Homo sapiens: one gene and its partner. The protein of the gene in region 1 interacts with the protein of each later gene in a biochemical or structural test. Each region holds a gene or a part of one and is shown on either strand. Other genes may lie near its edges.

Evidence for each region.
Region 2: the proteins of CDCA2 (region 1) and PPP2R5A interact in a test that uses a peptide from one of them, tested with the Homo sapiens proteins (one large-scale study listed by BioGRID and IntAct).

The regions. Positions count from the first base shown.
Region 1 is NC_000008.11:25,486,733-25,490,232, reverse strand, and holds part of CDCA2 (cell division cycle-associated protein 2), read right to left. Parts: intron 2,988-3,500; coding exon 2,899-2,987; intron 1,682-2,898; coding exon 1,544-1,681; intron 1-1,543. UniProt on the Homo sapiens protein: Regulator of chromosome structure during mitosis required for condensin-depleted chromosomes to retain their compact architecture through anaphase.
Region 2 is NC_000001.11:212,354,910-212,358,409, reverse strand, and holds part of PPP2R5A (serine/threonine-protein phosphatase 2A 56 kDa regulatory subunit alpha isoform), read right to left. Parts: intron 1,785-3,500; coding exon 1,734-1,784; intron 1,461-1,733; coding exon 1,341-1,460; intron 1,254-1,340; coding exon 1,126-1,253; intron 1-1,125. UniProt on the Homo sapiens protein: The B regulatory subunit might modulate substrate selectivity and catalytic activity, and might also direct the localization of the catalytic enzyme to a particular subcellular compartment.

The sequences.
Region 1 (3,500 bases):
GAGTGCTTTAAAATATATATACACACACACACGAAGGAAATCAATTTCTAATGTAATAAGTTGTATGTATATTTTTGAATTAATGGTATTTTTTCAGCAAGATAATCTTTCATCATTTTATCAAGAGTGTGTGACCTAAAAAGGAACTAAAGCAGGAAAACACCTAGTTCCTTCCGGATTTAATGACTTAAGGATATCTGTGCTACTCAACCAAGAAAAGCAGTCATTTTTATTTCATAGAGGGGGAAGGAAGTTTACGGAATGTTTTGGGTGGGTGTATAGGTTGATAAGTTTAGTTTTAGAAATGCTGATTTTGACATAGCATGGTTAAAGACAGATGTCTAGTACGTAGTTGAACACAGATTTACAGATCAGGAAGTTCTGGTCTTCATATATGGTCATTAACCATGCTGTGTATGAAATTACCCAGAAGATAAACAATTTACAAGGGCAAAGAAGAGAATTCTGGAAAACACAAACATTTAACAATGGGGGACAGAAAACAAACCTTAGAGACTGTACAGGAGTGTTCCATCATGTCAAATGCTAAGATGTCCATTAAGAACAGAACTGAAAAGTATGCACTGGCTTTAGTATTAAAAATGAAGTGAAGCGGCAAAGTGGTGAAGAAGAAGGCCAGATGTCAGTGAATGTGTAGTAGTACTATCCCCAACTCCTGTGTGAGTGTCTCTAGGGGCTATGTCAGATGGAAGAGAGGATAACTCAGTCAGACTGGAAATTTTGCTGGATGGATGAGGTGGAAGGAAAAGGATCCGGAATTGAGATTCCTGACAAGAGTTGGAAACAGTTCACTCAGTTCAGGATGAAGAGGGAAACATGAACTTCAGGTGTATCTGAAAGCTTAGCAGTACAGAAGGAACTGCAGAGTAAGAGAGTGAATAGGCTGGATGGACAGGAAGTTGGGGGTCAGAGAATGAGCACTGCTACACGGGCAGTAACAAGTTGTAAGAATGGCAGCAAGAGTGAGTAGGTGGCTTTGGAGTGTGGAGTCCAGATCACTGAGCTGGAGAAGGAAAAGGAACTGGGTTAAGGTGTTAAATTGGCTAACCACATGGACTGTAAGGGTATCTGAGACGACCAGAAGTGTTAAGAAAGACTGAGAGCTAGTTTCTAAACTTTCCCTTAAATTTAGGGAAAAATTTGATTCAGCAACTGGAAGAAGAGAATCTAAGAAGTAGCAAGCGGCACACTCATCCCTGCCTAAAAAAATCAGGATTCCCAATAGGGTAATATGTTGGGGTAGATTCAAAGATGAGAATGAGAATTTCAGGTTTGAGTGCCTATTAATTTACTGTGCAGGAAGTACGCAACACAAGAAGATGAAGAAGACGCAAAAGTGTTCCTTAGGCAATTCAGAGTTAAGTACATAACCCCCCCACCCCATTCTACTCCACGGTAAGATTGCATTAATAATCTTGGTCCAAAGTCAACTGGAAAAAAATGTGTTTCTATATTTTCCTAATTATACAATAAGGAAACACACCACTTCTACTCTTTATTATATCTTTAAACACATGCTTACCTGACTCTTCTTAGGAAGTGCTCTCTTTGTACACTTTGTTTCTTGAGACTTCCTCCTATTAATTTTCTTTTCTTTACAAGGCTGAACTTCTGTATTCAATAAGTTGCAAACACTCTCTTCTACAACACTGACCAATTGCTATAAAGAAAGTGTAAAGTAGGATACCGTAAAGCACAAGCAATTACATGTTAATGTGCTGCTCTCACTCTTGTTGTGCTTCCCAGGATGCTTCTACCACTTTAGATCCCATTTATTCTTAATTCACAAACCTTATTAAAAGCACTTTGATGAAAATTGGTGGAAATGGTAATTACCAATTTCTGAACTATCAAATGCAGACCCAGAAGTATACATATATTACCCAATTATATTAGGGAAGAAAGAAAAAACAGCTTAAGAATTCGTTAATTTATTCACTCATCAACTACTCATTAAGAACCTACAATTTAGCACCTAACTACTGGGTTATGGGGAAAAAAATCATGAATTTTTAGATTATCTAGGTTTGAATCCTGGGTTTAATATCCAACCCTATAAGCTAAATACCCCATAACAGTATATGTTTATACTTTATGATGTTATAAACAAAAATCCAAATTTTATCTAATTTAACGAAATAGCAAAAGACATGCATTCAATGGGAGTTATGCTTATATATAACTCCCAGTTGAAACCCAGTGTTAAAAAACAGACTGAAGCACAATTTAAAAAAGATTATACTTATATTATTTTCTGGTTCTGTTAATTACATGCTGATCTTCTCCATTTTCACCTCAACGAAATTCATAAAATCATATAGATCCCAAACAAATTTTGTTAACTTCCATGTTAACACAGCTCTGAAAGCATCTTTCTAGATTTTTCTTCTAATAGAATTAAAATCAAATCAGAAACACACTATCACCTTATAGGTTACATGCTAGGTAGGATAAAGTATTAGTTTTTTTTTTGAGACGGAGTCTCACTCCGCCCAGGCTGGAGTGCAGTGGCGCCATCTCGGCTCCCGGCAAGCTCCGCCTCCTGAGTTCATGCCATTCTCCTGCCTCAGCCTCCCTAGTAGCTGGGACTACAGGCGTCCACCACCACGTCCGGCTAATTTTTTTGGTATTTCTAGTAGAGATGGGATTTTACCGTGTTAGCCAGAATGGTCTCAATCTCCTGACCTCATGATCCGCCTGCCTCGGCCTCCCAAAGCATTGGGATTACAGGCGTGAACCACGGTGCCTGGCCAAAGTATTAATTCTTAATGACACTGATTAAACTAAGATTTCACCCATTATCATTTGGCCATGAAAACAGAAAAGTATATTGCACGATTTAAAAACAAATACGTTGTGCCAAACACAAACACTTACATTTCTTCTGTTAGAAGTCCTTGTTATTCTACCAACTTTAGGAGAGGATATTTTCTCATGGTTATTTGAAGAACTAAAGGTATCAGTGCCTGATAAACAAGACAAAAGCTAAATCAGGGTAGGAAACCAAAAACTATAACATACATCTTCCTTTGGAAACACTGTGTTTAGGATATCCACCTTTAATACCATATCTAAACAAAAAAAAGAGGAGCCAAGCAGCAGAAATTTTGAAATCCAATTTTTTTTTTTTGTTTTAAAAAATTTTAAGTTTACTGGATACTCAGAAACTTTCGCCACTTTCCATGGTGACTGCTTAACATATTACCAAGCTAAGATAGCAGAATAAATCACATTACAATAAATGCATGTATTTTCATGAACACCCATTTATTCCACGATACATTTTGTATAATGAAATCGCAATAAAGGACATTAAGATAACCATGAAAATACTTTGTTTTAAATTTTATTTAAAGTGTAGGATAGGAAAATTTTATTTTGACCACTTGTTTTTTTTGAGATGGAGTCTCACTCTGTCACCCAGGCTGGAGTGCAGTGGTGCAATCTCAGCTCACTGCAACCTCCGTCTCCCCGGTTCA
Region 2 (3,500 bases), on another chromosome or scaffold:
CAGTCTCATGTCTGAAATCCTGAGTAACAACATTAAAAGAAGATGAAAAAGATCCAATTACCAAAACTTATGAAAAGTAGAAAGCCGGATAAGGATGTTAAAGAAGTTAGAATATATTACCCTTAGCACTTCGGCTTTCCCCTGGGACAGTGCCATTTATAGAGGGGAGACTATACACTGAGAGTAGACCAACACAACTCTGCATTAACGGAGTAGTTTGTGTATCCTCTGCAAATGTTCAGTTGGTCTCCCCAAGAGGGTTTGACCACAACCTCCAGGGAGATTTGCAATTTTAAATTGACATGAAGGCTGGGCACAGTGGTACATGCCTATAATCTCAGCACTTTGGGAGGCCAAGGTGAGATGATCACTTGAGCCCAGGAGTTTCAGTCCAGCCTGGGCAATATAGTGAGACTTCAACTGTCCAAAAAAAATAAAAATAAAAATTCGCTGGGTATGGTGGTGCACACCTGTGGTCGTAGCTACTCGGGAGGCTGAGGCAGGAGGATTGCGTGAACCCAGGAGTTTGAGGCTACGGTGAGGTATGATTGCACCATTGCACTCCAGTCTGGGCAACAGAGCAAGACTCTCTTTTTTTTTTTTTTTGGAGACGGAATCTTGCTCTGTCGCCCAGGCTAGAGTGCGGTGGCACAATCTTGGCTCACTGCAAGCTCTGCCTCCCAGGTTCATGCCATTCTCCTGCCTCAGCCTCCCGAGTAGATGGGACCACAGGCGCCCGCCACCACGCCCGGCTAATTTTTTGTAGTTTTAGTAGAGATGGGGTTTCACCGTGTTAGCCAGGATGGTCTCAATCTCCTGACCTTGTGATCCGCCCGCCTCGGCCTCCCAAAGTGCTGGGATTACAGGCGTGAGCCACCGCGCCCGGCTGTCTCTAAAAAAATTTTAAAAATAAATTGACATTAAGACCACATACTGAACAAACACACACATTTATAACTTGATAAAGGTATACGTATATAAAATACAGAATAGAATACAACTGATGTTAACCTTGGAGTAACTTCCAAATCTGTAATAGGTTTCAAGTATGAGTTAGGAAATCAATAACAAAAAGATATAAAAAAAAAAAAAGAAAAAAATACGACCTATATAAAAGATACTTACGGATTCCAGTGTTCTTTGGAAATTTTGTACAAACTGGCAAACATAATTGGCAGAATTTTATCAATGTTCTCCTCAATCAAACTAAGAATATATTCGTTATTCCAGAAGTACAATGCCCTTTCTGCAACCTAAAAAAAGACATTTAGAGAAATGTCAAAACTAAAATAGGAAAGAAATACTAGTGTAAAGTAAAGGCTTCACTGAAAACATCATACCTGAAAATGAGAACTGGATACACACTTGGATATCTGCTTGAAAAGTGGCTCTTCAATTTTTTTGAACTGTGTTGGTTCAATGACATCTAAGATTTCTTCAATTTCTCCTAAAAACATCACCTAGGTTAAAAAAATTTTATTTTAAGAAACATGATAAATTATGTGAAACTAATATAGAAACCATACAAATGAGAAGGTTAATCTGCATAGTATACAATAAGCAAAAAAATGTCTGGATGGCAGAGTTTACTATAGCACAGGTCTTCTACCAAGTCTGTGTACATCTCCCGCTCTTTAGCAACAGCAATACAGCCAGCCCAAAGAAGCATGGTTTATAGCCCTGGGATTGACAAGTTCTAGTAAAATGCACTACATTTAGTGAACAAAACCCACCTCTTTCTGACTGCAGGTTTTTGGCCAAAATTTCAGCAGTCCTCTGATCACCTGCGAAAAAGAAAAAGTTTAGCATGAATTTAATAACAAAGCTAGTTAATCCCAGCGTATTTTCCATAGCTGTGATTATATCAACACTCATTCTGAAGTAAATCAATATTGCTTAATATATGTGTATAAATAGACTTTCTGCTCAGCTTTAGAATTTTATTAATTCAACTAACATTTACTGGGTGCCTATTATGTACCAGATACTGTTCTAGATGCTAGGGACACACTGATGTACAAGACAGATGAGGTCTCTGGTTTTCACAGAGCTTACGTTCTAATGGAGGAAGACCAATGCAAGTGATCAATTAAACACATAAATAAAACAATTTAATAGTATGTGCTACTTCTAAGAAAATAAAGGAAAATATAAGTTGGTGGGGTGAGAGAGGGAGGTTATTTTAGGGAGAAACCTTAAGGAACAGATGATTCCTGTTATTTAAACCATTATGAAACACAAAAAAAAACCCTGGACAGCTTCTCAGTCTATTTCATGGCTAGCACAATCTTTATAACCAGAATACAATGAAACAAAAGAGACTATTTTTATTTATTTATTTATTTTGAGATGGAGTCTCACTTTGTCGCCCAGGTTGGAGTGCAGTGGTGTGATCTTGACTCACTGCAACCTCGGCCTCCCAAGTTCAAGCAATTCTCTGCCTCAGCCTCTCGAGTAGCTGGGATTATAGGCGCCCACCACCACACCCAGCTAATTTTTGTATTTTTAGTAGAGACAGGTTTCACCATCTTGGCCAGGCTGGTCTTAAGCTCCTGACCTTGTGATCCACCAGCCTCGGCCTCCCAAAGTGGAGACTATTTATTTAAATAAACAAAGTTGAAAACACTTGCATTAAACTGAATCACAATAGAAGAATGCTATATGCCTAATTGTAACTTATTCCAGAAATGCCAGGATGGTTCCATTCATAGGTTAAAAGGGGAAATAAAAAAAAAAAACCCAGATCATTTTAAAAGATTTTCAAGTCATTTGACATTTTTAATTGACTATATATTCTGATAAAAAAATTTAGTAAGCTAGAACTAAAAGAATTTATCAGAAACCACCAGCAATCATTCTACATAATGATTTATTAGAGACAGGCTGTAAAACCATCTAGGCCTGGTGGTTTTGTGGAAATAGATCTTTGACAGCTTTTTAGGTTACTTTATAGTCTGTCTGGTCCAGTAATGTGGAACACTAATTCAAATTAAAATTGGGAAGGATACTGTTTTGGAGACAATCCAGTAAGATAACAATGTGATGAATAATGTTGGAAAGGAATACCAGAATTACACTTATTTGTGTAACTGTATATTTATATATCCCTTAAAACTTAAAAAAAAACCCTGCAAGTTACTAGAGTGAGTAGGAAAATTCAGTATGTGGCCACATTAAAAAATACATATATAAAAATCAATACCTTTATAAAACATCAGTAAAAATCAGATGAATAATAAAAAGGTACTTTTCACAACAACAACTATAATGTGCATAAAGAATAAATTTGCAAGAAATACTTAAGACATATGGAGAAAAGCATAAAACTTTACTGAAGATCATAGAAGACTACAAATACAGTTATATGTCATTTAATGATGGGGATACGTTCTAAGAAATGTGTCATTAGGCAACTTCATCATTTAAATGTCACAGGGTGTACTTAAACCTAGATGGTATGGCCTACTACACACCTAGGCTGTATGGTGTAGCCTTTTGCT